Regions from separate parts of the Homo sapiens genome. Here regions 2, 3 and 4 are each linked to region 1. Evidence: fine-mapped expression QTL. A gene starts in region 1. Each other region holds a variant in brackets. All regions are shown on one strand. Distances are from middle to middle.

Region 1 (7,933 bases):
ACTGCCAACTCCCTGGGCCTCAGTCTTCCCCTCCTGAAAATGGCAAATCTGCTTTAGGCAAAGAGCTGAACCACCTGAATCCAAGTGGCTTTCCATTCAGGGAATGTGCAGGGCAGACCCTTGGACCACATCTCTGACCCTGGTCCCCACACCCCAGCTGAAGGCAAGAAGGAGTCACCACCAGTAAGCAACTTCCAAAATGGGGTCACAAGTGCAGCTGCCTGCTGCCTCAAATGCAAACAAAGCCTAGAAGCTTCAAACTTGTGCTTCAAACTATGACCTGAGGACCCAGAAAAAGTCTGAGAGAGTGAGTCCCTCTACTTTCAACCTTGGGAGTTATTTTCTTCAGCACAAAACTAGAGGGGGCTCACAGGTCAGATCCAGGATTCCTGGGCTCCAAGTCTGCTCCCTCATTCACCATCTTATCACCTTGGACAAGTCTCTGGGCCTCAGTTTCCCATCTGCAACTTGAGGGAAACAAACTAAGGAGGGAGACCGCATTTGTCTAACTTCAAGAGAATGAATGTGCATTGCCTTTGTTTTAAAATAGTTGGTCATATCTGATATAAAGTTGTCCAAAGGAAAGCATTACCCAACTCCCAGCCTGACATAGAGGGGGAAGCATGGGATTGGTGTGGGCGAAGGATTACCCAGGTGCCGAGGCAAGAGACTGAAGGCATAAACTGTAGCTATACTGCTATACAGTTGTAATACAAATTAGATATACAGATGATCATGGACAATTATCGATTATTAGTATAAACATTATTAATCATTAGTTTTTAATATTACTCTTTATTGTAGTACAATATAACCTAGGAATAACCGGTGGGTATAGGGTCAGGTACTGAAGGGACATTCTGAGAAGTGACCTAGAAGGCAAGAGGTGAGCCCTGTCACACCCGCATAAGGGCCGCTTGAGCGCTCCTTGGTCAAGCGGTAACGCCAGTGCCTGGGAAGGCACCCATTACTTAGCAGACCGCAAAAGGGAGTCTCCCTTTCCTTGGAGGAGTCAGGGAACACTCTGCTCCACCAGCTTCCTGTAGGAGGCTGGATATTATCCAGGCCTGCCCGCAGTCATCTGGAGGCCTAAACCCCTCCCTGTGGTGCTGTGCTTCAATGGTCACGCTCCTTGTCCACTTTCATGTTCCTCCTGTACTCCTGGTTCCTCTTTGAAGTTTGTAGTAGATAGCGGTAGAAGAAATAGCGAAAGTCTTAAAGTCTTTGATCTTTCTTATAAGTGCATAGAAGAAAATGCTGACTTATGCTGCCTTCCCTCTCTGCTTCGGCTACCTTAGAGGGAAGAGCCCCCGTCCCATGATCACATGACTTGCTTGACCTTATCAATCACTTGGATGACTCACCCTCCCTACCCTGCCCCCCTTGTCTTGTGTGCAATAAATATCAGTGTGCCCAGCCATTCGGGGCCACTACCGGTCTCTGTGTCTCAGTGGTAGCAGTGCCCCGGGCCCAGCTGTTCTCTCTTTATCTCTTTGTCTTGTGTCTTTATTTCTTACAATCTCTCGTTTCCGCACACAGGGAGAAAACCCGCTAAGCCCCGTAGGGCTGGACCTTACAGATTGGGAGGCTGACAGATGTGGGGATCAACCCCATATCTGCCTCTTACTGGCTGTGAGATCTGGAGCATGATGCTTTGCCTCTCTGGACCTCAGTTTCCTCATCTGTAGAATGGGGACAATAACTTCACAGTAGGTTTATTGTGAGAATTTAATTAATATCTGTAAATCTCTCACCACAAGAACAGACACAGGGTAGACGCTATTCATGCCACAAAGATTTAGAGAGCATCTTCTCAGTACCAGCATTACACAAAGGCTGCTGAGGCCCTGGGAACAGTGACGTGGTTCCTTCTCTCCAGAAGCAAAAGGAAACACAGGGTGTGGTGAGAGATAACCAAGGCTGGGCCGCAGCGGGGAGCTCATTCAGAGAGGGTGCTTAGGAGGTGACATTTAAGCTGAGTCCCAAAGAGTGAGAAGGGGCCAAGCATATAGAGAGCAGAAGGACGAGTATTCCAGGCAGAAGGAACAACATGTGCTAAGGCCTGAAGGCAGGAAGCTGCTCTTAGCACATCTCAGAGACTCAAAGGCAGCCAATGTGGCTGGAGAAAGCAGAGGCCAGGAGGCAGCAGCACAGCCAGACCACGGGGACTTTAACAAGGCACCCGGCAAAACCAGCTCCACACTACTACAACCCCGTTCTCAGAGGCCACCACCCCTACCTTCACAGAGAGCACCCCTGTACACCTTACTAGTCCATCAACCAGAAATGGAAGGAAGGCGTCTCCTGTGTCTTTGATGCCAACTCGGAGCCCAGGCAAAATCTGGACCAGAGTTGGGGTTCATAAGCATTCGCTGAATAAAAAAAAATGAATAAAGTGATGGCAGGATTCATTGTTATTCCACTCAAATTAGGAAAGGCTGACTGCTGACATGGGGGAAGGGAGGTTTTGCCTTGGCAACTAGTCTTGCCTGGCAAGGCAGCCATCACGGTTGGAATGTCCAATGCCTGCAGAGAAAGCTTCAGAAGAGGCTTGTTCAGCTGGAAGGCCAAAGGGCCAACTCTCCACCCCCAGCACTGTATCAGAGGACAGCGGAATGGGGCTCTCTCTTCCAGACATCTGTAGTGGCTGCCCTGCACATTCTGATGTTGAAACAGCGGGACATGGTGTCTGAAAACACCTAGCCACACTCTAACGGATATTAATTCGATTCCCCTGAGAAAGCAAGTCAGAGCTCCCTACTGGGGTGTGCCTGCCTCTCACAAATGTTTCTGTCTAATGGATTTGTGCTCCCAGGAAAGGTGAGGGAGGACACATCTGCCGAGGGCAAAGTGTTTGAGGAGGGCAGAGGGAGGGCTCTGTCTGCAGAAAGGTTGTTGGCCATCACAAGTTAAGATTTAATGTGCCTCAGATTGTGTCCTCCAGGGGATTGAGTGTCCACTTTCTGTATCCTTGCAACATCTGGTCAGCCCGGCCAGATGTGAAACCACAAGTTGACTCTTCTAGACCAAAGCACTTACCGCAGACAGGCCCACAAAAGGCCAGCCACTTGCATCCAATGACAAGCCATGGGGGAAGGAGGGAACCCCACTTTCCAAGAAGAAGCCAACTGCCAGGCCCCTCGTTTAGCAAACATTTCCTGATTCTGGGGTTCTATGGCTTACAGAGATGAATCAGGAGTTTACCTTTAAAGTTGGGAGCAGAAATCTAAGCCAAAAATATCATCAACAAATCCAAGGGAATCTGCTTTTCCAACCTAGGGAACCTCTTATTATCTATTTGCTGATAAACCCCCAGTTTTCAAATACTTCTTTCTACCAATCAGACTACACTGACTTAGTCAAAGTTTGTTTCCCTGCCCTCTTTCTTCTGATCAGTAGGGGAATGCCAGGGAGCCCACACCAGGAGCTGAAAGAATTTCAGCTATAGGCAGAGACACTTGCCATCTTAGATCTCACAACTCTAAGCCAAGAAACGCGCGTGCCCCTCTGACCTGCTACGCATACCGGGTTATCATTTCCCGGGTTCTAGGGTTAGGGGCTATCCAGCGAGATGAACCACCAGCCCTGACCTGGCCTCTTGGGCGAGAGAAACACACCGCAACCACCTCGGAGTAGGCAGCATGCCTGTGTGCTGCAGCTTCCGGTAACAGAATCCTGCTTGCTCTGCTTGTCTGGGAGAGTGACACGATTCATTTCATTTTGCATTTAATTCTCAGCAAACCTGCGGACAATGAGGCTGAAAAGTTAAACAACGTGCACAGCTAGAAAGTTACGAGGCGGGACTCGAGCCCATAGGCACTCTCACGGAACGAATCTTAAGAGAAAAATGGCACAAGCCTCCATCCCGCCCCTCATTCCACTCCATTCCACTCCACTCCACTCCACTCCACTCCACTCCACTCCACTCCCTCCCCGCGCCCGGACGCCAAAGCCCCACTGCTCACGTCGCCTCTGGTCGAGAAGACGCCGTAGGGCAGGTTGTGGATGGGGAAGTCGGAATCCTCGGCCACCGGGATGAAGGACATGCTGAAGAGCACCCGGCACGGCTGCGGGCCTAAGGTGGCGTGCGGAGAGCAGGACTGAACTCGGCCGCTGTGGTCAGGCCCGGCCCCGCCCCCCTGCCCGCCCCCACGGCCTGTCCGGGTGACACAGCAGGGACCCCGGAGGCTCCTACCTGACTTTTGGTCTCACCGTGAACACCCCGCCCCCGAACCCCGAGCCCTGCCCCTCCCCCCTACCCTGACCCCCGCCAGCTCCAGGTCCTCCACAGTCTCGCCCGCCCTTCCAGAGCCCCGCCCCGCCCCTGGCCCCGCCCCCGTGGGCCTCAGGTCCTCCAGTCTCTCCTCCCTCCCTGAGCCCCGCCCCTCCCCTTGCCCCGACCCCGCGAGCCCCAGGTCCTCCACAGTCTCACCCTCCCTCCCTGAGCCCCGCCCCTCCCCTCGCCCCGCCCCTCCCCTCGCCCCGCCTTGCAAGCCCCAGGTCATCCAGTCTCTCCCTCCCTCCCTGAGCCCCGCCCCTCCCCTGGCCCGGGTACCCGAGAGTCCCAGGCCCTCCAGTCTTGCCTCACTCCCCGAGCCCCGCCCCTCCCCTGGCCCCGCCCCCGTCCTGATCCCCGCCCTGTCCGCGAGTCCACGTGGGGGAGATCTGGTTCCAGCCCCCGCTCGGGGCAGCTAGCTGGTCCTACCGAGAGCAAACCCCAGCTTAGCATTTAAGGCTCTGCCCTGCATGACTCCAGCCTCGCTCGCCCCGGCTGCTGCCCTGCTCTTCAGCTCAACAGAACTCTTGTCCGCTTCCTGGAAACACTTTCTCCCCAAGAGCTGCTCCCTGAGCTTCAGAAGAACACCCAGTCGCGTCCTTTCTGCCTTCATACCATGATGCTCCGTCCAGCTATGACACTTCCACTTGTATGTCAGAGAAGGGGACAGTTAGGCCTGTTTGGAAGGCTTCAATTAATGAGAATTAATATTCTAAAAAATATAACTCACCTGTTTCACATGCCAGTAGTAAAATGACGTTGACAAGATGCTCAACCTTGGACAAGTTACTTAAACTTTCTCTACCTCAGCTTCCTTCTCTGTATAATGTTGATGATAATAGTTCCTACTTCACAAAGTTGATATAAGAATGGAATGAATTAATATTTGTGAAGCACCTAGAATAGTGCCTGGCATATACAGGTTATGTGTGTGTGGAAAGAGAGAGAAGGGAGGGAAAAAGAGGAAAGGAGGGGAGGGGGATAAAGGAAAGGAAAGATAAAAGAGAAATAGGAGAAGAGAGAGAGGGAGAAAGAAAAGAAGGAAGACAGGAAAGAAGGGAAAGGCAGACTATCTTAGGGTGGGTTCAAGGTGTTATCTAATCACTCATGTGCAGTCAGCTGCAGTTTTTTGAGACCATGCCACAGCCAGGACACTTGGAACACACCGGAGAGTGTGTCGTTGTGTTATTGTTGGTGTGAATGATTCAGGTACACTTTTAAACAGCCAGGATGCCGGCTGAAATCTAGAAAAGTAGACGATAGTCTGGGCAAGGGTTCCCTGAAGATCCTTGAGGAATGTGACACAGTGACTGCTGAGTTAGGGAGGCTGCTCCGCATTTCAGCTTAGGGAGAAGAGGCTGGAAGATGGCAGGATAATGTGAGCTAAGTGGGCTTGAAACCAGACGGCTTGAGAGGAGCGAGTACGGCAAGCAGGGCCCGCTGTTGAGCCCCCCTTCCTAGCCCCTGAGATCACTCTGGTGCCTGTCCACCAGGCGTGACCAGTGATCATCACCCAGTAAGGAGTGTAATCTGGGCACAGCCTCTTGGCTCTCATCTCCTGCCCTGAGTGGCTCTGCCAAGGACTGGCTTCAGTTCTTTTAAGTCAGCCCTGGGGAGGGAATGAAGGTGGTCTGATTTGTTCTGGTAGGTTCCTGAAAGAGGAAAAGAAGAGGAGAGTATCCCAACTTGGTGGCCTTATAAAGAGGCATTCCAGGGAGCACTTGATACCTGCCTAATTCAAGCTAGTCCTCAGCTGCAACGCAATGAATTATTTCCACGTTCTGTAGTTGCCCTGCCCCTTCCCATTAAAACCACGAGCTTTCTTATTCCATGTGCAACTCTGTCAATACCCAGCAAAACACCTGGCACAGAATAGGTTCTCCATAAATACATGTCATTAATATAAAACTGTTGACCAAAAGGAAATGAAGCAATAACTAATAAGCCCATGCCCTATGCCAGGCCATGGGGATACACCAGCAACTCACATCTTTAATTCCTGTTTTTATGGAGCATGTGTTGTGTGGGGGATGCTAGGCCAGGAGCTTCTACTGAATACATACAAGTTAACAAAAGCCTAAATGATAAAACCCTTGGAGAAAGAAAACCAAAGTATTTTAGGGAAAGGACATGGGGCAGATGTATGTGTAGGAAAGGGTGTGGGGATGAGATGGCTAAAGAGGGAGTAAGATTTCATAGTTTTAAAATAGACTTAACCAACCCACTAATTATACACAGTGTCTGAAAACGCCAAAGCTGTTCTCTATTTGGAAAACAGCATTTGAAATAACTTGCAAGTATACTATATTTTTTCTTTCTCATTTTTTGGAAGAGAATGTGTTGGCCACGTATATCACAACAATTATTTAAAAAGAATTTTAAAACAAAGAGATTGCCCATAATCCCACCAATGTAGTCTTCTCATTTTCATGTTTTTTTTTCATTCCATTTGTATGCACATGGCTTTTCCATCCTTATAAACTTTACATAGATGCAATTTTTCAGTCTTTCCCTACCTTATTCTCTTGAATATTTTTCCTTGAGGCCCAATAGGCTTTATTATGATCATTGTCATTAGCTAAGGAAGTCGCAATGTTTTAGATGGTAATAATAACGGTTCAATGAAGAGGTGCATGCACAGAATGTTTTCCTTTTCCTTGACAATTATCTAAGGAAGATTCCTGACTCAAAGAGTATGAACACTTTCAGGACTCGCAGTGAGTTTCAGCATCTCCAGCAATGAAGGCTGGTTTGGGTCTCTGTAGCACCATATTTAATGCCTCCCTCTGATGCTAAAAAGCAACACACTGCACTGCAGCCCTCATTCACACAAAGCATGTCCCTCACTCCTTTACAAGAGAGCTGAGAGAGAACTTTCCAGATCCAGGACACTAATGTCTTGCAACGGCTCTGAGAAGCTGGCAGTTGCCATTCAGATAAGCAAGGTGTGGACGCTGCCTGCACTGGGAAGCAGGATGGGGTGGCCTTTTTTGCAACATTCAGCACTGCTGCATGGTCGTCAAGAAAAAGAGGAAACTATGTCAAAGGCCAAGCACTTTAGCAAAGTAAGTGTCCTCTCTTTTTCAGGTCTGAGCTCAGTGATGTTTATGGTACACATTTTGTAGTGGGCATCATGGGTTTGGCATGTGTCCAGTACATTTTAGTATCAAGAATATATGTCATGTGCAAATATACATGACATTCTGTCCTCTCAAAGGAGTTCAAAATTTAGAGGATCTTGGAACTGAACGTAAGTAATTCAAGTGCAAGTGCATGTTGTAGGGTGGGGAGAAGGGGATTGGATGAAGTCCTAGGTGAACCAGCTCAACCAGGGCTAGGTTTTCTGCAATATAAATTTTCTTCTTCCTGCCCTCTTTAATTCTGTCTTTAGTCTGTTTCAGGTACTATTGTGTCTATGTTCTGATGGAATACTACCTCAAATCCATTTTGGATTTAAGCTGGATTTGCAAGACTCACAAATAACAAGCAGCACCTTAAATAAAGAACATGTCATTGCCATCTGACTTAATAATGTGTACCATATAATGAGTTCTCTGTTACCATTATCAAAGCAGGAGCCACTTTTTAGACTCTCCCTCACTGTTATTTCAACAAAATACTTCTAATTTTGTTTTGTTTTCTTATAACTAAATACAT
Region 2 (7,933 bases), 30 kb after region 1:
GCTGGGATTACAGATGTGAACCACCGCACCCGGCCCTGTTGAGCATCTTTTCATGTGTTTATTGGAAACTTGTATATCTTTTCTGGAGAAATGTCCACTCAAATCCTTTGCTTATTTTTAAAATGGGTTTTCTATTGTTGAATTGTAATTATTTATATATCCTTATCACATATATGATTTCAAAGTATTTTTTCTCTCATTCTGTAGGCTGGTTTTCCACTCTTTTATTTTTTGAGAGAGGGTCTCATTCTGTGACCCAGGCTGAAGTGCAGTGGTGCGTTAATGGCTCACTGCAGCCTCAACATCCCAAGTTCAAGTGATCCTCCCACCTCAGCCTCCCTACCCAGTAGCTGGGACTACAAGCGTGCGCCACCACACTCGGCTATTTTTTGTACAGATGGGGTTTTGCCATGTTGCCCAGGCTGGTTTCAAACTCTTGAGCTCAAGTGATCTGCCCACCTTGGCCTCCCAAAGTGCTGGGATTACAGGCATAAGTCACTGCACCTGGCTGTTTTTCCACTCTTTTAAGCAAAAATCTTTATTTTGATGTAGCTCAATTTATCTATAATTTCTTTGGCTGCTTGTGGTTAAGGTGTCATATCTAAGAAACCACTGCCTAAACCAAGATCACAAAAATGTATACCTGCTTTAAGAGTTTTATAGTTCTCTTATATTCGTTTTAGGTCTTTGATGTATTTCGGGTGAATTTTTGCATATGGTATGACATAGGAGTCCAATTCATTCTTTCGAATGTGGATATGAAGTTGTTCCTGCATCATTTGTTTAAAAGATTACTCTTTTCCCATCAAATGATTTTGGCACCATTGTTGAAAGTCAATGGCCCATAAATATAATAAGAGTTTATTTCTGGACTCTCAATTTTTTATTCCACTTACCTTCATGACTATCCTCATGCCGGTACAACACAGTCTTGATTACTGTAGCTTGTACTCAATTTTGAAGCCAGGAATTGTTAGTCCTCCAACTTTGTTATTTTTCAAGATACCTTTGGCTATTCTCACTCATTCTTTAGAATCAGAAGAAATGCCTGATTTTTAAAACCCATACAGCTTTCCTAAATCAGTCCAAAGAGACTGTCCCCCTCTGATTTTTCTGAACCAATGATTTGACAATTCAACTTTGTATAAAGTCAGAAACCCTCAGAGTAGGAAAGAGCCTGAGAATTCTAGTTCATCCTGTCACTAAGCACAGCATTCCTCTCTCTATATGGTCTCTAACATCAACTCATCTTTCCTAGAATGCTTCAGTGATGTAGACCTTACCATCTTAACATATGACATCATTCGAGTGTTGGAAAGCTTCAAAATTCTCTCTTACTCTAGGCCTCCTACAACTCCCAAATCACTTGGGCAATATAAAGAATATCTTCTGCAGCTTACAAAGCTCATCCAACCTCCATTATCTCAGTATCTTTTAATACCCTGTAAGAGGGACATTCTTATTCTCTTTTAAGAGTAATGAAAGTAAGGCTCAGTGAAGTTAAGCAGGCATACCAAGATAGGAAAATAGAACTTATGAATCCAAATTCAGTATTTTTCTACTATGACCCAAGATCTGAGGGACTAAGAGGTTGACCAAATTTAAGCATATTCTTCAACAGTTTTAGAGTGTACCAAAATGCTTAAAGTAGTTCTTTTAAAAGCTAGCATTTGTGAACTGGAAATTTGACTTATACTCCTGAGTGACACTATGTAAGTAAGGTACTGCTATATTTTTAAATCAAAAAGAACAACTAAGAAACATGCTTCAATATGCTAAATTCTCAATGAAACATAAAAATTCTTCAGAGCCATGTGGCCAATATGAAAGCAGTACCACCAACCTGGTGGCAGCATATCCTAATTATAAGCAGAATACATGTAGAGAAAAAGTTGTTCTGAATGTTCCAATTACAAAATGTTACAAACTTCTGGCTTAGACATATAGCTGCTACTCATATACCTTCTTCCATTTGGGATGGTTTTCCTATCTATATAAATTTCCCTTGAGGGAAGCATATGGAGTGAGGAAGAAGAAAACTGATACCTGGGTAGTTTGCTAAACGAGTTGATCCTACCCTGAGAACTGAGGGAGATGTATGTGTTAACAGGAATACACATATCCACATCCTAGTCCAACAAGCTCCACAACTGTCTAATCATAAGAATACTGGCCTCTATGAGTTAGGTCCCTGGATTCCAGTTCCAGCTTTTATGACCATATGACTGACTCAAAGAGACTTTTTCTGTCTCTTTTCATCCATCTATTAAATAAATGGAAAAAAAGTTATTTGAATTTGATCAATAGGGAAATCGTAATTGCATGTAAGTGTATGAGTGTGTGCACATACAGAATATACACGTACATATATACAAACATACATGTTTATATTTGTGTATGTTTATAATAAAAAGGGTATTCTTAATTCAATAATATGTTAAATTTTTTTTAAAAACTAGGTTGTTAAGAGATTTTACATACTGGAACCTAACCCTCCTCTCTTAAAACTGAGATGAAACTTATACCTAATTTATCAAAGATTTGCTGCTGATATTACGAATGCTAAGTTTTTTAAAGGTACTTACAAGTTAATACTGGTTTAACCTAAAAGTCATTCAAATCATGTATGAAAAATGGGGCCTATACAATTTCTCCTAATATGGCATCAGGACCACCTTTTGAAGTGATATACTCAGGGCTAAGTGGAGAAAACGGTATTGTTTTCCATACACCACAAATGGAAATAAAAACACTTTTATAAATAAATGGTATAAAAACACTTCCTATGTGTTATGATAGTTCACCAATCTATGACCTTTATTCTTTGTCAAACTTCTGTAAATACTATTGTATTCTTAAGCTTTATACATTTTTTTCACTGCCAACATTCTAAATTTTTTTTTTTTTTGAGACGGAGTCTCGCTCTGTTGCCCAGGCTGGAGTGCAGTGGCGCCATCTCGGCTCACCGCAAGCTCCGCCTCCCAGGTTCATGCCATTCTCCTGCCTCAGCCTCCCCAGTAGCTAGGACTACAGATGCCCGCCACCACGCCCAGCTAATTTTTTGTATTTTTAGTAGAGACAGGGTTTCACCGTGTTAGCCAGGATGGTCTCGATCTCCTGACCTCGTGATCCACCCGCTTCAGCCTCCCAAAGTGCTGGGATTACAGGCGTGAGCCACCGCGCCCAGTCTTTTCCTTATTTCTTTAAAGATTCCTCATTTCTGCCCTTCCTTAAATTTTTTGATGTAACTAAGAAATAAGAATTATTCACTTAAAACATTTAAGAATTTATCACAATATGCTAGATGGGACTAGAATATTTACGTTGACCACACAGAATATTCTTTTGTTACGGCAAAATCTACACAAACAAGCAAACTGGTTCAAGTATTTGCTGGGTATGAAAAAAAAGCAAGAGGAACTACCTAGCTTATTTAAATTTGTTTATTTAATTCTTGAGACCGGGTGTGGGGGAATTGCTCTGGTGCCCACCCAGGCTGGAGTGCAGTGGCACGATCATAGCTCACCGCAGCCTGAATTCCTGGGCTCAAGCAATCCTCCCACGTCAGCTTCCTGAGTAGTTGTGACTACAGGTATGTGCCGCCTCACCTGGCTAATTTTTTGTTGTCCAGGCTAGTCTCAAACTCCCAGACTCAAGCGATCCTCCTGCCTTAGCCTCTCAAGTAGGTAGGGATTATAGGCACAAGCCACAGTGCCTGGCCTAAATTAAAAATTTAGCCATCTTAAACTAGGATTGGCAGATGTATCTGTTACCATCATGTGAACACCATGTGCAATGAAGTTTCACTGGTAAATCATCTCACAGGCAGAATGACACACTGCTCTTCATTAGGCTTATCTTTCCAGAGATCCTTCCTTGTTACCATGTTATTTCCACACACTGCTAGAATACAACTAATTAAGCAGAGATTATTTAATAGCCTCCAAAATGGCCTACTCCGCATTCTCTCTCCCTACTACGAAAGCCTTCATACAAATTTTCAAGTCTTCCTAGATCACTTTGAGCTTCATAATGGGGATATGAAGAGCATGGGCAAGACACGATAGATACCATGCTGTGAATACGAGCAACTGAATGTGACTATTGCACACATGGGGAAGAAAAAAGGAGAACTGCCAGGCACGATGGACACAGTCTCTCAGATAATGAGTCAAAACACAAAAGAAAGAGATGCCCCTCAAACCAGCAGCCCCAGTTTTCTTACAGAGTAGTATATAGACTGAAACGGCCAAAA[T/C]AGTAAAAGAGAACAGTGTAACACTGCCACACATTCATTTAATTATATTTTCCAAACTAAACAAATTTTGAATTTGCAACATTTATGCTGATGATAAAATTACATGTAAGTGTGAAATGGCTCCCCAACATGTTAATTAAATACTTAAAGATATAAAGTATTGTGTTCATAGGGAAAACAGAAAAACATGTATTTTAAGCTGGCAATTTTTTTATACATGCACCTAGGATAGTGTCTGGCCTATAATACTCAAATAACAAAATACATGCTAGTTCATATACAAACCCTGCACATCTTCTGTTTCAGGTACTGCTTTGTCCACAGATGTACTGTCCAATTGAGAAGATGCTACAGATTCTGATAAAAGTGACTGATTTGATACAGGGCTAGAAAAGCAAAATATTTCATTTTAAAAGGTGATCTCTACACATGAATATTAACTAATGTGACACAGTAAGAGTTCAACATATCTAAGTAGATAATTAAGATGAGAACACAGACATACTTTTTTTTAATAACTTAAACATAATCATAGAGCTTTAAAACTAGAGACTAATTTGGACCAGAATTTTACTGCCTTGGAAACAAAGCAACAGTGTATATGTCCTTTGTGTATTTCAAGTACCACATGAATTCACTAAATGAAAACTAGCATGATAAAGACATGCTTAAAGAACCCTAAGACAAAGCTGTAAATGATATTCTGGCATAGCAAAACTGAACATATCTTATCATGAACTGGAAAAAAGGAACCCCAGTGTAGGAACTTAATATATTGGTTCCTAAAAGCAGAATAAAAATGAAACCAGTATTGCTGTATGCAGGCTTCTAAATGATGTGACTTCAGAGTTAAAAAATATATATATACACATTACAATATAAACAAATATGAGTACTACATCATGATATTAAACAAAGATAATGTGTGACAAGACTGTATTTTTTTAATACACGGTAGTAATACTTGCAGAATAAGACTAACATTTCACTTAACATGCTTCCAAAGGACTTCAGGAGTAGGTCAGGATATATTATGAGAAAGAAAAAGATGCCTGAAAAAGAAATCTAAGACTTAAACGATAACCCCCGATCCCTCAAGGTAAAAGCAAGAAATCGCTTTTTCTAACTAGTTATAATCAGACGATAAAATTTTAGGCCAGTTAATCTAAAAGTAGCTTTACGTAGTTTTCCTTATTAATCAAACACAGAATATACTCTTTAGTTTTTATTAGCATTCTCATTAGAATTCAGAGAGTACATCTTACCTGGGCTGCATAGATGAAGATGTAGAGTCTAATGCTGACTGGGCTTCTGGCACACTGCCATCTGTGCATTGAACTGGTAAAGATTCAGACAGACTACTGACAGAGGTTGCTGTAACAGTACCACATTGCGTATTAGTGATTCTATATGCTCAGCAGTCTAAGACCTTATCTAAAAAAATCAAAATCCATTTTCCACAGAACACAGTATAGAGGTTTTCTTTTAATATGTAGTATGTTGGTTCATTATTTTTAAAAAATTTTTCAACGGTTTGCCAGTGAAAAATATGTTAATTTTAAACCAAGAAGGAAACCATCTGCAAATTGTATACATTAATAAACTCCTATTTCTTAGGACTGAATAGCACCCAAGCCCAAATGCTTTAATTCAAAAACATCTTCCAAGTACTAGAGAACAAATGAGATATTTAAATAAGATGACATAGCAGTGAAGAATATAGGTTCAGAATTAAAATCTATGCTCAGTACATTAGGTTATAAATGTAGATGATGACTTAATTTTAAAACAATTTATACTCATTTGATCTTAGCCTTAAGCAAATTTGGAGTTTTGGTTAAATGGTTGTAGGTTTTGGCTTGAACAAAAACAGACAAGATCTCACACACAATATTAAATGAACTAAGTAATAGCCTACACTTTCATTAACCACAAAAATCTATACATGCAGGCATTAACCTACATGAGATCTATCCTAAATGAATACACTAAACACTTTCCTTTTTGCAAAGCTTATACTTGGAATCCGCATGATCCTTCTTATACAACTACTGAAACAAAAGACCACCTCAATTCCAAGAATATCCTTTGACACAAAAAGGCATAAAAAACCCTAGTGAACTGGGGTTGAACATCCCTTACTATGAGTTAATCCACGATACTCCTCCTTCCTAATGGAGTAAAGCTTCCTCTCAAGTCCACTGAGCTGTGGTTATCAATAATCCACTCCTTCCTTCAACAACTACTTGAGCTGTAAGTCACACCAGATAAAAGAACAAAGGTTCTTTTATCACTCTCTTCCCTTACTTTCCAAGACACTTGAGGTGTCCCCTCTAAATAAAGTAACAGAATTCCACAGCCACAGAAATAAGATTATGGTATGAATTTACAGTATTTTCAATGAGTGATGATACTCATTCCTAACTCCTCACTACTGATTATAATCACAATGTGTAATGAGAAATTTTACTGATATGAATATGGTAATATAAATATAATGTGAGAGCAGAAAAAGGTATTGGGTATACCGAAATATCCACTTGTATTTCAATTATGAATATAGACGGGTTTCACTAGAATTACTTACCAGGTGGGCTTATTCTACCATTACTACTATTCTGTCTTTGAAGATGTTCTTTATAGCATACTGAACACATGCCATTTGTACGAGGGTTTCCATAAAATCCACAGCCAGTGGAACAAAGCATAGGCACTTGGCTGTGATTAGTTTCTTGAGCCATGTTCCTCAGTTGCACACCTGAAAATTACATAAAATTAGCAAAGAACTCAGACACGTAACTTCCAATCACACATTATCCAAAACTGCTTTTATATGATAAAGAAAAAAGCCCACATATATCAAACTATTCTACATAACTGTCCCAAGACATAGGGCTAAAAAGGAGAGAAAAATATAAAAACCAAAAGGACACACATTGAACTTTTTATCTCCAACCCACTCTACATAAGCCAAGTCTGTACAGGCTCAGAAAGTATAAAGAACTCCTAGAGAAAGAAATCTGTTTTGAAGACTCTACCCCCAGAAGGTCAAGGATAACTTATTAAGTCTAGCTCAGTTTGGACCCTCCTAGTAATAAGAGATATACATTATAAGTTTTGATGTATGTTATATTATCTAATATCTAAGCATTTAAACTTTTGCTGGAAGTTCATGTGCTAATGTGTGTTATTTATTCTGTTTCAAAAGCATTTCACATAGTATCATTTCTGGTGAAGATATGGAGAACTGGGCTGAATGCTTGTAAAATGATAATAAATTGGTTCAATCTTTTTGGAAAGCAAGTTAGCAATTCACTTCAAGAACCCTGTAAAAAACAAATATTGCTATCTGAACCAGTCATTCCCCTTTAAGGGTCTTCAACAAAATGACTAGAGTATAATCAGAAAAAGAATAATAAAATATAAGGGATGTGCTTCACAGCGTTATTTATAATTTTTATAAACAGACAATAACATTAGAATGTATGCAGTTTTTTTTTAAAAAAGCATGATATATAAATGACAAAAGTTATGCAGTCATTAAAAATATTTTAGAATATTTTTTGATTGAGGGAAATACCGATAATAAATGAAAAGGCACAATATGAAATGCGTATACTATATTTTGCCAATTAGGAAAAAAGGAGCACCCATTAATCATCAAAAAGGACAGTAATG
Region 3 (7,933 bases), 40 kb before region 1:
TTGTCCCCGGCACAGGGGAAACATAAAATCTCACCAGCAGCCATATTGTCTGGGGGTGATAGCAATTTAGTCCCACTCCCTCCTGCAACTTAAATCATAATGTAGCCAGTCCCGGGTAAGTGGAACACTTCCTGTAAAGCACAACTGCTAGTGCCCCCTTCTGTGGCTGGTCATGAGGCCCAGAGTGGTAACTGCAGTCTTGTTCTCCCACCACCCATTCCATAGCCCCTCTACTTTCTGGCAGTCCCTTAGCTGTTGGAGAATTTTATCTGGTGGAATGACCCAAATCTTCATCCACAGAGGATTCAAATTCTTAGTGCCGTGTCTTCAATGAGTTGCCACAGTATCCACAGATTCCTAAAGAACATGAAGAGGCCTTGAAGATCTCACCTGGAAGCTCTGTAAAATTATCAGAAAGAATAGCAGGTGCTCTAGGGCAACACTACTCAAACTATGGTCCACGGATGGACAGCATTGGCATCTCTGGGGAGCTTGTTAGAAATCTAATTTCATGCCCCCACCTCAGGCTTACAGAATGAGGACAAGGGATACAGGGAGTACCAAGTGCCCTAGCGAATCCCAGGGTTCCAAAGCTAGTACTCCTTGCCCCTATTGTGTAGCAGAAACCCCACTTTCCCTTGGATATTGGGGTTAACCATCCTGACAGTGCAGTGATCTCTTTCTCTGCCAATATTTCAACATAAGGAGCCCCAGATGGCACAAGATCATCTTCCAATTTAACAGACCCATAACTATATTCCCTGGTGGAAGCAGTTCCTCTTGGTCACTAGAGATTTCCAAACCCACAAAACCTAAGGTTTCTTGGTTAAAGGCCATGTTTGTGGGATATGCTGAGATGAATATGCTGTGGTTTGAATGTGTCCCCCAAAGTTCATATGTTGGAAACTTGATTCCCATTGCAACAGTGTTGAGATCTGGGGCCCAATGAGAGGTGATTAGGCCATGAGGGCGGAGTGAATGGATTAATGCAGTTATCTCAAGAGTGGGTTTGTTATGAAGGGGGTGTTTGGTCCTCTTTTCTCTCTTGCCCATGTGATTCCTTCCACCATGTTTATGATGCAACAAGAAGGTCCTCACCAGATGCTGGTTCCTTGATCTTGTATTTTGCAGCCTCCAAAATCGTGAGCCAAATAAATTTCTATTCATTATAAATTACCCAGTTTGTGTTGTTCTGTTTTAGCAGCACAAAATGAAAGAATGAAACACCACAAATGGCAGGGAGGGGCAGGAATGGCAAATCCATATCTGGAATATGTGTCTATTCCTACTGCCCTCTATGATGAAAGGGATTCAGTGTAATCAACCTGCTACCAAGTAAGCGGTTGGTCTGTCTCCTACCACCCATCTCTGGGAATGGTGCCATATCAGGGGCTTGGCATTGGTCTCATTCATTGGAAGGCTACATATCCAGAAGTTATGGAAACCAATGGACCTTCACAAGGGAAAGCCCATAGTGTTGATAGCCTCTATCCCTTCCACTATGGTCACTCTGTTCATGATGTCATTGAGCAAACACCAGAGTAGACAGAGGAAGAGGCTCACACCCCCAGGTTGGGTCATCTTATCCAGCTGATCGTTGAGAGTCTTTTCTGCAGTGGATGCCCTCTGATAGGCATTTAGATGGCTCTTGAATATCTTGACACCCAGGGCCCCTTCAAAGATGTCTTTTCACACATATCTGCCCAAGACTGCCTTGGACCCTCTCTTCCCATCCTGTTCAGTTGGGTCAACACTGTGATTCTCCTATTGGAGATGGTTAGGAATTCCATACAGCACTCCATTTGCAACAGATACTTCTGGCACTATTGGATCTGCTGATCTTAAGGTCCAAATGGCAGAGTAGCTTTCATCACAGTCTGGATATACCTTTTCTAGAGCCCTGTATTATTCTGGGCCCCATTCAAAACCAGCAATCTTATGATGTAACCAGTAAATCCATCAGACACACACACAAATGTTCTATATATTGCCTCAAAAATCCAGAGATCCATCAACTGCTGAGCCTCATTCTTTATGGTGGAAGACACAAGGTGAAGCAACATGTTTCTCATCTTAGTGGGGATATTCCAACAGGCCTCAGCCTGCTAGAACCCAAGAAGTTTCACCAATGTGTCAGGTCACTGAACCTCCACATGTGTTTTCTTCCCCTCTCTGGCAAGCATGTGGCAGTACAGCACTTGCTAGTCCTCATTCACCAGATCCAATTAGCATAATGTTATCAATGTAGCAGGCAATCATAAAGTTCTATGGGCTGTCAAGATGATAAGGGTCTCATATCATATGACAGAAACCAGGAGAATTGGCAGATCCCTGAGGTAATGCATTTAGGGTGTGCCGCAGTCTTGTAACAGGTGAAGGTGAACTCCTTCTGATTATCTGTATTGATTGTGATGCAATGGAAACTATTTCTAATATGACAGTTCTCAAACTTCAGTATGCATTAGAATCACCGGGACGGCTCATTCTAACACAGCTGGTAAGCCCCTAGAATTTTTAATTCAGGTGGTCTTCAGTGGAGTTCTATAAATTGTACATCAAACACATTCCAAGGTTAAGCTGCTAATCCAGACCTACCTTTTGAGAATTACTGTTCTAGTCACCAGGTACAATACCAGGTGCACACCAGGTGTCAGGGGCTGAGCGGATCTTCTCTAATAAAGATACCACATCCAGAACAACTCCTGAAATGGCATTAATTCCTGATTGTGTTTATGAAAATCTGTAGGACCCACCTGGCTTTTGCATAAGCCAGACAGGTGACTTAAATAGTGATGTGATTAGAACCACCTGTCCTGCATCTCTCAAGTCTTTGAAGGGGGCACAATTCAATTGCCCTGAAGATGCAGAATTGCTTTTGGTTTACTATTTTGTCACAAAGAGGCAGTTCCAAGGGCTTCCATGGGGCCACTTCTACAATAATAGCCCTCACTCCATGGGTCCAATTGTCACCCTTAATACCAATGACTTTATTCATCAGGATTTAAGCGGCAAATTCAAAAGGTTCAATGAAGAGGGTTTAATTTTGGGACAATTTTCAGAGGGACAGGTAAGGTAAAGAGAATCAGTAAGGGTTGATGATTAATCCAGGGTTAACAATGATAAGAAGCCATTACTGCCCCTTGCCTGGGGAGAAAACAGTGGCACCAGAATCTAGCAAAGACTGTGGTTATGTTGCCCACAGGAGCAGTAGGACATAGTGGGACACAGCCACTGCCCAAACCATGGCTCAGCAGGGAAAGAGTAAGGAGGATGATGCTCTCTGCTGCTTTATTCCTCTATATTCCAACCTCTGCCTGCACCTCCACTGGCCAATCCTAACCAGCAGCCAGAGAGCATGAGCCTGGGTGATGTTGTCCAACGAGGTCAGCCTCCAGGTGCGCAAACAGCAGGGCAGGGAAGGATGGAGAATAGATCTGGAGGGACAAAGGGAGATGAATCTGCAGAGGGCCCTGGGTGTTCTTCCTGCCAACAGACCTCAGTCAGGACCCAACCAGTGCACCCAAACCAATTTTCTAACTTTGACTATTTAGGAGGGAGGATTGGAATACCAGTTTCTCACATCCCTTGGACTTCTTATGCAATTTGGTCCACTCCCTCTCCACCCTTCTGCACCAAAGAGAGGGGCACCCTGGTTATATCCAACTATACCCTTTTTCCAAGGAAAGGAGTGTCCACTTGCCTCATCTACATAACTAAGAAGGACCCCAGAATTGAGAATACTTCAGCTGACCATACAGAGGCTGCTGGTCAACATATACCCCCAAAAAAGATTACGCTGTCCCTTAGAAGCCACCTCCATTTCACAGCAGTCATCCCATTAAGTGGGGAGATATGCGGTTTCACTTTGGAGATAGGACAGCAGCTCAAGCTTTCCACGAATATATATTAAGGGAAGAGAGACCCCAGAAAGCTAAATGACTTGATGACATTCAGGAGGCTGAAAGTTAGGCTACAAAAATAGTGCTTCAGTGACCAACCTTGGTGCACACAGGTTTTTTTTTTTTT[TC/C]CTTTTTTCTTCTCTTAGATTACCAAATACAGCACTAATATCATTTGAAAGAAGAGTTTGCTTGAGCTTATAGCTACGAAACGGGGAACTTTGTGAGTACAATGCCACACACATTTAGAAGCAACTACTGTCTAACAGGGGCTTTGGACACAAAGATGCATAGAGCACAGCCCTGCCCTTGAGAATCTTGCTTCCACAGGCCGAAATCAAAGTCCACATACCACTAGACCATAAATGGGGAGAGTGTTGTCCTAGATGCTGAAAGCTCTAGAATCCAGTTTCAGCTCTGCCACTCACTAGTTGTGTGAAATGAACAAGTCTCTGCTATTACAAAACAAATATCAGAGACCGTGTGGGGTCCAAAGATGGAGGTAAAGAAGCAATATTGCCCTTAGGCTGGGGTAAGGTATGGAGTGGGGGCTTCCTTGGAACTCATGCCACAGAGGGCCCAGCTTATAACAGATACGCACATACAAATCAATTTGTTCAAATTCATACAAGCACCTCTATCCCTCGGGCCTCAGGTTGGTGCAGCTCAACCTGTACTGCAAATATGAGTAATACTGTCCAAGCCAGGGGAGTTCTTCTTTACATCCCTGCCCTGTGTCCCCAGAATAAAAGAGACTGTGTGAATGTCACGCAGGACTGTGGCAGGTCCAACCCTGGAGGTGGACATGTCAGTGGAAGCGCTTAGGTAAGAGAAAGGAATGATTATTCAACTTGTTACACACTTCCTCCTAGCCAGAATGTAACTGATTCTTCCCCAAACAAATGACATTTCCCATTTATATCAAATATCCACTTTCTTGCTTTTTTTTTTTCTTTTTTGGCTTTTATATGATTGAAAATTGGTAAAATAGGCAACTGAACTTAATTATCATTGCCCTTGAAGAGAGTTGATGGGATGGCAATATTTGGATGAGAATTAAAGACATAAATTCATCAACTACATACCTACTTTATAAATTTTTAAAACCAAACTTTATTTCCAATCTGTGGTTCTGAAGGGACTCACAACATGTGCCCTCGTTGGCACATGGGTCTCATAACCTAAACAAAGAGTGATACTAATTCTTTACTTTGGCAACTAAGTGGACAGTGAACACTAAGACTGCAAAGTAGTTTTGTTTTTATAAAATATATTTAATAAGATTTAATTAATTTTTTTGAGCTGGGTGCAGTGACACGGGCTTGTAATTCCAGCTACTCAGATGGCTGAGGCAGGATGATCCCTTGAGCCCAGGAGTTTGAGGCCAGCCTGGGCAGCATAGTGAGACCCCATATCAAAAAACAAAACAAAAACAGATTTTATTACATTTTCAAAAAATGAATTTAGACATTTCATTTTGATTTAAAGAATTTTGAGATTAAATATTAAAGCTCTTTAATTATTTGTATCTCGCTTTTTATTATTAATAATTTTGAATATTTTCAAAGAAAACTAACTTTGAAAATGCATATGAAAAATTTAATTTTTCAATTTTTAACACAGAGTTTTGATGAAGATATTTACTTCTTGTACACTGAAGTATAATTCAATGTACTTTTTAATCTTTTATATCATCAATAAACCACACATTATATGAAAAGCTCAGGAGAGCATAATTAATGATTCTAATGAAATTAAAGAAAGAAAAATAATTGTAAAAATTAAAGTCTGATTTTAAAAATGTATAAAGTATAAAATTCATGAATTTATGTCTTTAATGCTCATCCAAACATTGCCATCCCATCGACTTTCTTCAAGTGCGGTGATAATTAAGTTTAGTTGTATATTTTACCAATTTTCAATCACATAAAAGCCATCACTTTGCAAATATGTTTGTTTTGCAATTATGAAAGCAAACATATCTAGGTAGGAGAATAGAAAGTATTTTATTTAACAGTGTATAGCTTGTTTATACCTCCTAAATACTGAGACTCCATGAGCACTCTCAGCTTAGGCCCTGCAAATGCTAGAAGTAGACCTATCAATAAGACACAATCTGCTCCCAGTGCTCTCCTAGAATTCATTCACTTACTGAATGAGTATACATCGAGCGGCTCTTACGTGCTAGGTACTGATGAACTTTCAGTAAGCAAAAGCAGACTATCCTCAAGGAGCTGAAAATCCAATGAAGGCAGATATTGATCAAATCATCATAGACAACAAAGGTCTATTTATTTCCAGGATCATGACCTTGGTGGGAATAGATGTGCCATGCTACTCCATTCCCTCTCCAAGAAAGAAATTGTCACTCCAACTTTTTGGTGTGCTGTTGGCAAACAGTCTGAAAATAAGACTGGCCTCAGCCTTATTTAGTTTTCAAGAGCAGAATTTTAAAAAACAAAAACAGGCTTGCAAGCAAGCATCCAGTCTTGGTCCCTCTCCCACGAGTTTCTTTCTGCCTCTCTGCAGGAGGAAGGAGAGCAAAATACTCCCACAGCCCTGGAAATCTTGCTGAGAGGACAGAAAGAGAGGGGATACACAGAAAACAAATTAGTACTTCAGGATACAACCCTGCCAAATTACTTTTTCTGGGGGTGTTAAAGGGAATATGCTTCCAAACTAAAGAAAGGGAGAAAATGTGAAAATAGAACCACTTTTGAGATCCATTTTGGTGTCAGGAATCTTTGAGATAATATTAATTGTGATACTTTACACCCCAAAATTGCCAGGCATGGTGTGTCATGCCTGTAATCCCAGGACTTTGGGAGGGCAAGGCAGGAAGATCACTTGAGCACAGGAGTTCAAGACCAGCCTGGGCAACATAGTGAGATCCCGTCTCTATAAAAAATCAAAAAATCACCTGGCCATGGTGGTGTGCACCTGTAGTCTCAGCTACTTGGGAGGCTGAGGTGGGAAGATCACCTGAGCCAGAGAAGTCAAGGCTGCAGTGAGCCAAGATTGTGCCACTGCACTCCAGCCTAGGTGACAGAGTGAGACCCTTTCTCAAAATTAAAAAACAAAACGAAACAAAAAAACAGAAAAAATCCTTAAAGTTCCCTTGTCCTCAAAAACATTGTCTTGGTTCAAGTCTACACTCACCCTCAGGAGAGCTCTCAATGTACAGTGTTTCAAAGGTAAACCAATGTGTGTGAGAGGCCTCAGGACAGAGAAGTCCCATGGTGGGGGCAACAAGGCTTCTCTTCCTCCAGTCCCCTCTGCAATAGGGACAGGGGCTCCCAGCCCCTGGAACCCCTAGTGCCTGCCCTGGCCCCGGGCAGTAGCGTGCCCCTGAGCCTAGCTCCCTTGCCACCCTACAATAAAACCAGCAGTGGGCCCCATCTTGCCAGAAACACCTCTGGACTGACTCCTCCTGGTCAGGTAAAGTTTCAAATGAACTCTACTCTCAGTTTCACAGTCATCCATTCATATTCCGAATGGACCACTGGTTAAAAACAGGAAGCATAAATGGAATACAAATTAATAAGGAAGATATAGTGATAACTATGGCCAACCTGCCTTGAGATGCTCATCATCCCGTCTGAAAGCTCCATTCATCTGGTCAAAATGCTTCTAGTCCTTAAAATATCACTGTCAAAAAGAGGAAATTTGACCCTGAAAGTCATTCTTGTCTATTTCATATTATTACACACAGATAGGTTTCAATAAAGTAGATCTCCAAAACTAAAGACCATTAAAGTCACTTGTCATGTGGGGCTGGCAGTGAGCATTTCTGGAGTCGGAGACAGTAAAACAAAGAGGCTCTTGTCGCTGAAGATTAAGGAAAAGTAATTGCCAAGTAAAGCCCAGGCTGGACCCAGAATTAACATCCATGAGTTTGGTTTCTTAAGTGAATCTGATGCCAGGAACGTTTCTGGCTCTTTCTGCCCTGTGTGTGTTTCAGACTCTGGGGCAGGTCCATTGGGTTTTCCCAACATCACCAAGCCCTTTAAGTGCATTAAATGCCCAACAAGGGGATA
Region 4 (7,933 bases), 76 kb after region 1:
CAACTGATAAAGTTTGTGTATTTGTCCCCACTCAAATCTCATGGTGAACTGTAATCCCCAGTATCGGAGGTGGGGCCTGATGGGAGGTGACTGGATGATGGGGATGGAGGAGTTCTCATGAATAGCTTAACACCATCCCCTTGGTGCTGTCCTTGAGATAGTTTTCACAAGATCTGGCTGCTTAAAAGTGTGTGGTACCTCTCCGCACCCCACTCTCTTTAGCTCCTGGCTTTTGTCATGTGATGCACCAGCTCCCTCTTTGCTTCCGCAGTGATTGTAAGCTTCCTGAGGCATGATCACAAGCTGAGCAGATCTCTGGTGCCATGTCTCCTGCACAGCCTGAAGAACCATGAGCCAATTAAACCTCTTTTTATACTCAGTCTCACGTATTTCTGTATAGTAATGCAAGAATGACCTAACACATCCAAGATTTCATTGTCGGCTGTTTCAGTTACCTGAGATCAACCACAGCCTGAAGATACTAAGATATTTTGAGAGAAAGAGGGAGGGAGATGATATCACATAACTTTTATTACAGTATAATTATTCTATTATTGTTAATGTCTTACTATGTCTAATTTATAAAACTATGTCATAGGTATTTATGTATAGGACAAAACACAGCAAATATAGGTTTGGTACTATCCACAGTGGGTCTTCAAACATATCTCCCATGAATAAGGGGCAACTACTGTATATATAATTTTAAACAATTATCTACAAAATTTAAGAAAACTGGTTGTGTAGGCCGGGTGCAGTGGCTCATGCCTGTAACCCTAGCCCTTTGGGAGGCCGAAGTGGGTGGATCACCCGAGGTCAGGAATTCAAGACCAGCCTGGCCAACATGGTGAAACCCCGTAGCTACTAAAATACAAAAATTAGCTGGTCATGATGGTGGGTGCCTGTAATCCCAGCTACTCGGAGGCTGAGACGGGAGAACTGCTTGAACCCTGGAGATGGTGGTTGCAGTGACTGGAGATTGCACCACTGCACTCCAGCCTGGGTGGGTGAGCAAGACTCTATCTCAAAGAAAAAAAAAAGAAAGGGAAAAAAAACAGAAAAACGGTTGTGTATTCTGTTTCTCAAAGCTAAGGGCCAGGCGTGGTGGCTCATGCCTGTAATCCAGCATTTTGGGAGGCCGAGGCAGGTGGATCACAAGGTCAGGAGATCGAGACCATCCTGGCTACGGTGAAACCCCGACTCTACTAAAAATACAAAAAATTAGCTAGCTGGGCGTGGTGGCGGGCGCCTGTAGTCCCAGCTACTCGGGGAGGCTAAGGCAGGAGGATGGCATGAACCTGGGAGGCAGAGCTTGCAGTGAGCCAAGTTTGCGCCACTGCACTCCAGCCTGGGCGACACAGCGAGACTCCATTTCAAAAAAAAAAAAAAAAAAGCTAAGGAAAACATTCTTTTCAAATTATATATCACATAAATCTATTATAACATTCAAAATCTATTGTCATTATTTTACATTTTTATTATTTAATGTATACCAAAAGAACAGCAAAAGAAAGAACAGAGTAGGCCGGGTGCGGTGGCTCACGCCTGTAATCCCAGCACTTTGGGAGGCCGAGGTGGGCGGATCATGAGGTCAGGAGATCGAGACCATCCTGGCTAACACGGTGAAACCCCGTCTCTACTAAAAATCCAAAAAATTAGCCAAGCGTGGTGGCGGGTGCCTGTGGTCCCAGCTACTTGGGAGGCTGAGGCAGGAGAATGGCGTGAACCCAGGAGGCGGAGCTTGCAGTGAGCCGAGATCGCGCCACTGCACTCCAGCCTGGGCGACAGAGCGAGACTCCGTCTCCAAAAAAAAAGGAAAGAAAGAACAGAGTAAACAGATAATCTACAGAATAGGAGAAAATACTCACAAACTGCACCTCTGACAAAGGTCTAATATCCAGAATTCAACAAGCAAGAAACAAATAATCCCATTAAAAAACGAGCAAAAGAACACATACTTCTCAAAAGAAGACACACTCTGGGGACTGTTGTGGGGTGGCGGGAGGGGGGAGGGATAGCATTAGGAGATATACCTAATGCTAAATGACAAATTAATGGGTGCAGCACACCAGCATGGCACATGTATACATATGTAACTAACCCGCACACTGTGCACATGTACCCTAAAACTTAAAGTATAATAATAATAAAATAAAATAATTGAGCAAATGAAAAAAAAAAGAAGACATAAATACAGCCAACAAATACATGAAAAAATGCTCAACATTACCATCACTAATCATTAGAGAAATGCAAATCAAAATCAAAATATCATCTCAAGCCAGTCAGAATGGCTATTATTAAAAAGTCAAAAAAATGACAGATGTTGGTGAAGTTTCCCAGAAAATGGAATGCTTATACACTGTTGGTGTTAATGTCAATTAGTCCAGCCACTGTGGAAAACAATTTGGAGATTTCCCAAAGAACTTAAAACACAACTACCATTAGACCCAGCAATCCCATTACTGGGTATATACTCAAAAGAAAATAAATCATTTTACCAAAAAGACACATGCACTCGTTTATGTTCATCACAGCACTATTCACAAGAGCAAAGACATAGAATTAACCTAGGTGCCCATCAACAGTGGACTACATAAAGAAAATGTGGTACATATACATTATGGGATACTGTGCAGCCATAAAAAAGAACAAAATCATGTTCTTTGTAGCAACATGGATGGGGCTGGAGGCCATTATCCTAAGTGAATTAATGCAGGACAGAAAACCAAATACCACGTTGTCACTTATAAATGGGAACTAAGCACTGAGTACACAAGGACATAAAGATGAGAACAATAAACACTGGAGACAATTAGAGGAAAGGGCTGGGGAGAGGCGAGTGTTGAAAAACTATTAACACCTATCAGGTACTATGGTCACTGAGTGACGGGATTGTTTGTACATCAAACCACAGTGACATGCAATTTACCCATGTAACAAACCTACACATGTACCCCTGAACCTAAAATAAAAGTTGAAAAAATAAAATATAGCAAAAGACTATTATGGATAGTAAATAATGCCACATTAAAAGTTTTGAAAGCCGGGCGCGGTGGCTCACACCTGTAATCCCAGCACTTTGGGAGGCCGAGGCGGGTGGATCACAAGGGTCAGGAGTTCGAGACCAGCCTGGCCAATATGGTGAAACCCCATCTCTACTAAAAATACAAAAATTAGCCGGGCGTGGTGGCAGACACCTGTAGTCCCAGCTCCTTGGGAGGCTGAGACAGGAGAATCGCTTGAACCAGGGAGGTGGAGGTTGCAGTGAACTGAGATCACGCCACTGTGCTCCAGCCTGGGTGACAGAG[C/T]GAGACTCTGTCTCCAAAAAAAAAAAAAAAAAAAGAAAGAAAACTCACTCCTATTCTTACAATGGGTAATTCATGGATTTTTACTATGCTTATAATTACCTTTAATTCCCAACTATAGTTAATAATTTGATCCCTTCAAAGAAACAAACATTGGTAATATTTACCTGTATTTCAAAAGTTTCATCAATTTGACCTTTTTCCTTTACCACCAAGTTGCTTTCAAAGCTATGAATAAAAAGGCTACTTTTTCTTTTTTTGGTCCAATAGAGGTCCTTTTGCTTTAAAATATGTTAGAGGGGGAATGGCACAGAGGACAAAGAGAAAATATTTTAAATGAAAATGATTCCAAATCAACTATTTTTCTGTTCACGTCAATTTTATTTGTAAGTAATGTTGTCTGCATTATTTAACTTTTTTGATGATAGAATATTTGATGCAAAATAATCTATGTAGCCTCTCTACCCTATGTATAAGTTACTCAGTAAGTTATTTGACTTTTGTTCACAGGCAGGTGCTTTATACACCCGGATGCAGAATGAGCACAAGGTCCAAGCCAACAGTTATTTAAGGAGTTGTTAGCATTTCAAATAGCTTAAAGTGCTTTTGCACTTTGCCTAATCTTCCCACTACACAGCTTGGTCTCAAGCTTTTATTAAACGTGAGGAATTCAACAGCTATGAAACTCAAAACTATGTGCATAAGGAAAACTACCTTTACTTTGCCTGTGCCTCATTCTTTTATCTTCTTGTATCCTGGGGATGCTAAAATGTTTAATATCCTTTATCAAAGTGTTCCAAAAAACTGTCAGAAATACTTTTTTTTTTTAATGTTTGTTTCCCTTAAAGCATTTTTAGACAGGCAGCAAGTTTTCACTATGCCTTAGAAGAAGGAATTACAAATAGCTGGTGGTTAAAGAGTGAAGTGGAATGATGTGAGGGAAAAAAGGAATAGAGAAGTAAGCTCAGGAAAGCACACAGCTCAGTGTGTAAAGGAAAGGACTTCCAGTCTGACAAACCTCAGTTTTAAAGTATGCTAGTCACTTACCAGCCAAGGAGACCTTAGACAAATTAGCTAGCCTTTCTAAATTGACTTACTGGTTCGAAAAGACTAACAGTACTTAGCGTGGGGACCATCTGAGAGAATGTTTAGCACAGAATCAGCTGGTGTTATTCTTCACTCTAGCTAGTATTCACTAACGAATATGAAGCAGAGAAAAACAGATATGACCGCACAGTAAAGAATGTATTATACAGAGCCTAAAATGGAAATGAAGATCAATTAGGGGGGTGTTTAGTCATCTAAGAAATCATACCGTGTGGCCTTATGCTAACACGTGAAGGAAAAAAAAAAAGATTGATTCTAGAGACACTGAATTTAAAATTTATAGGCTAATTGTGGCTAACTGGTGATGAAGAAGAATCAGAATGACAATCAGATTCTGGCTTGGGTGGCAGTATCACCCATTTGCTGTGACTTTTGGTGAGCTGGATAAATATGGGTCTCAGGTACAAAAAAAGTTTTGGATTTTAGATTCAGACGTTGGAACCATTAATATGTATAGTATGCTAATTAAAGATATGGGACTGGAGATTATCAAAAGGGAAGTCTAGAGAAGAGTTAAGAACAAAATGCTACGAACTTCTATTACTTAATGGTTGTAAAGGAGAAACATTTGCAAAAGACACAGAGATCACTAATGAGGAAAGCACAGACAGTATCATGAAAATAATGAGAAGAGTTTCAAGCAGGAAAAGTAGTCAATGGCACTAAATGTTGCTGAGAAATCTAGTACTTACAAAAATCTATTGGTAGCAGATGACACAGGGTATTTATATTGCGAAGGGGAAAAAAGGTATAAACAGGGATAGATGGATCTGCTCTCTTCTACCAAAGCACTACTAACGACAAAACTGTTTCGAGTTCATTTTCTCCGATGGCATACAAACACAGAAAACCAAATTTAGTCAAACAAGTTCATAGACACATCAGTTCAAAAATTAGCATTAATAGGTTTAAACAAAAATGGCTCTAGGTTCTTTCAAGTTTTATCAACTTACTGCCCATTAAGTTTTTTCCTCATATTATTTGGAGGGAAAAAAATCACTATGTTCCTCTTGAATGGCATCTAACAACAGAGACTTTGAATACATTATTTTTGAAATAAAACGCAACCATCACTTTTCATATCTTGACCCAAATACCTAGGTCAATTTAAAAGTTTTCTTCTCCTTGTAGAAAACTACTTTCCACTCTCCCTAGGAAACCAAAAAGATACTCCCTAAATCTGTCAATGTAAGATCAGTAGTACTGCAGAATTACAGTTACAGAAACCACTAAAAAAAATCACTTCTTTACCTTGGGGTACCCAGCAAAATGTAATCAACAGCTAAACTTTCACTACAGTATTTACAATTACCTTTATCTCTATTTGGTAGCAATAACATTAAATTTTATTAAGACGACAATCAAATTACATGTTGTCAAATTACCAATATTTGTGATAGAAATATGGAAAATTTTTAATTTTAAATTTCTCTCTTCTATCCCAAATGTTCAACACCAAAGTATCTGAAAAAAAATCAAACAATAAAAGTAGACATTAACAAAAAAAACTTCCCTCTGAAACAAACACAATGACAAACATACCAGCATCAGCTCTGAAAGTCAGAGATACTAAATTATCAGTTAATTGAAATAAAAGTTGACACAAAGTAAGTTAAATTATTTAAATTGCAAAATGAGCTAGACTAACTCCATACCATACATGCTCAACTACTGGTTCCATCAATGAGTTATAGCCCAGCCTATGGCTTATCATTACTCCCCATTTGTAAGAAAAAATATGATTGTCTTAGAATTGTCTTTGATTTTAACACAACTTAAGTTTATTCTAGAACGTTACTCAACTAGTTTATAAGCCAGTTATGCCTATTTCATTTAACAGACAAGCTAGTAAAAGTATACATAATTTGTGGTCAATGCCAACAAAGCATGCTCTTAAAGACAAACAGAAACAACATATGTCTAGCACCACTATATGTGTGTAAAGTTAAGTTCTTACCTTTAACTGAAACCTATAAAATACTGGAAAGATGCTGATATACCATTTCAAAGCCTGTAATTATTCATAAAAGTTATCTGTTTCCAAAGTGTATTTTTAAAAACTCAAAATTAAGAAACGCACAAATAATGACAAAGGTTATTCATACATGTTTTTGAGACAGGTAAAGTTAACTGGCACTACTCCAGTCTCCTAATGTTAACTGGCACTACTCCAGTCTCCTCCTAAAAATGTTTCTGATATATTTTCTTGAAAGAAAATATTTCTTCTGGTATGTGCTTACCAGAAGAAAAAGAAAAGCCAGCCTGAATAACAAAGCCAGTGTAAAACATTAAGCCCCATACTTACTAATAGCAACACATACACTAAGTATATAAAATATCTAGCATAGATACAATTGCTCAGTTAAGTGGGTAAAAGTGTTTCCAATTTCCCTCAGCTGATTTTAATATCCAGAAAAATTGCTTTATATCCATCTACATCTTGGAAAGTGGTGTTGAAAATAGGCTTTTAGGCAAAAACTAATCAACAAGTCAGAGAGCTCCATAGGCACACTTTAACAGAACATTTAAGGGGCTACACATCAGAAAAACTTTGAAGCATATTCTGCTGGTGTCGATATAAACTGGTATAACTTTTTAGAAAAACAATTTGGCCAGTGAAGTGTTCATTATCCTTTGATCTAGGTAAAGCCACTCCAGGATTTTTCCAAAAGAAATCTTTTTTAAAAAGGAAAATATTTTACAGCTACACACAGGTGTGTTCAACGCAATACTATTAAAAATGACGAAAAATTAGAACCTAAAAGTAGACAATTCAAAAAACTAGGTTAATTCAGGTCACATCAATTTAAGAGAATTACATAGTTACTGAAATGAAAACAATTTCAACAGATAGTTAAGTGAAAACATAAAACTGCACAGATTCATAATTATTGGAAAACTGCAAGAATATAAGACAGAGAAGGGAACAGGAAAAAAATGAGATGACCAAACAATGATCTGCTGGTGGGTAGATAGGTAACTTTTCTTGATTTCATTATTATTACACTATTGTTTAAACAACAGATATAGCAGAAAAGCATTAATTTAAAAACCTTTGCATGATCCGGAACAAGTAGCATAGCAAATACAATGGCTGAAAATGCTTAGCTGGCTTTTGGTCTGATTATTGCAATGATTATTGCAATTTATACCTTAATTTCTATGAGAACAAAGAGCAACAATATAAAGAAAACAGTCTCTAAAAAATATTCTTGTACTGAAATACACTACAATTACGTCATAAATAAGAAATGTAAATAGAATCAGATACTTTAAAAAAAAGTTGTAGTAGCCTACCTATAGCTTTTAAAAATATAAATCCTTTCATTTCCTGTTTCGAAATGTTAATTACTTATCTCCACCTTTGAAAGAAATGAAGAGTTTGAATGAAGTAAGAAGAAAGCAGTTTCACTTTGTTCATCAATGGCCTTTTTAATTATGAGCATATTAAAAATTATAAGCATATTAAAAATGTCAACATATTGTTAAATTAAAATATACTGAAATTAAAAGGGGTG

The links. PIP is the estimated chance that this variant, and not a neighbour inherited with it, causes the effect. A credible set is the group of variants that fine-mapping cannot tell apart.
Region 2: its variant is the best candidate, but not a certain one, in a credible set for the expression of FAH in whole blood (INTERVAL, PIP 0.89).
Region 3: its variant is the best candidate, but not a certain one, in a credible set for the expression of FAH in iPS cells (HipSci, PIP 0.66).
Region 4: its variant is the best candidate, but not a certain one, in a credible set for the expression of FAH in whole blood (TOPMed, PIP 0.60).

Annotation. Positions count from the first base shown.
Region 1 is chr15:80,149,168-80,157,100 of GRCh38, reverse strand. It overlaps FAH (fumarylacetoacetate hydrolase), which reads right to left and starts at 4,102. Exons shown (of 14, transcript NM_000137.4): 1 at 3,966-4,102. The coding sequence starts at 4,046. RefSeq lists a silencer at 4,114-4,673.
Region 2 is chr15:80,119,408-80,127,340 of GRCh38, reverse strand. It overlaps ZFAND6 (zinc finger AN1-type containing 6), which reads right to left. Exons shown (of 7, transcript NM_019006.4): 3 at 6,843-7,013; 4 at 5,521-5,629; 5 at 4,541-4,641. The coding sequence starts at 6,996. Among named protein-coding and RNA genes, the nearest start is that of FAH, 30 kb to the left of the region's middle. The variant T/C (reference allele first, on the strand shown) is at 4,256.
Region 3 is chr15:80,188,724-80,196,656 of GRCh38, reverse strand. It overlaps CTXND1 (cortexin domain containing 1), which reads left to right. Exons shown (of 3, transcript NM_001352888.2): 3 at 1-1,176. Among named protein-coding and RNA genes, the nearest start is that of FAH, 40 kb to the right of the region's middle. RefSeq lists an enhancer at 7,155-7,324. The variant TC/C (reference allele first, on the strand shown) is at 4,027.
Region 4 is chr15:80,073,110-80,081,042 of GRCh38, reverse strand. All of the region lies in intron 1 of ZFAND6 (zinc finger AN1-type containing 6), which reads right to left. Among named protein-coding and RNA genes, the nearest start is that of ZFAND6, 17 kb to the right of the region's middle. The variant C/T (reference allele first, on the strand shown) is at 3,312.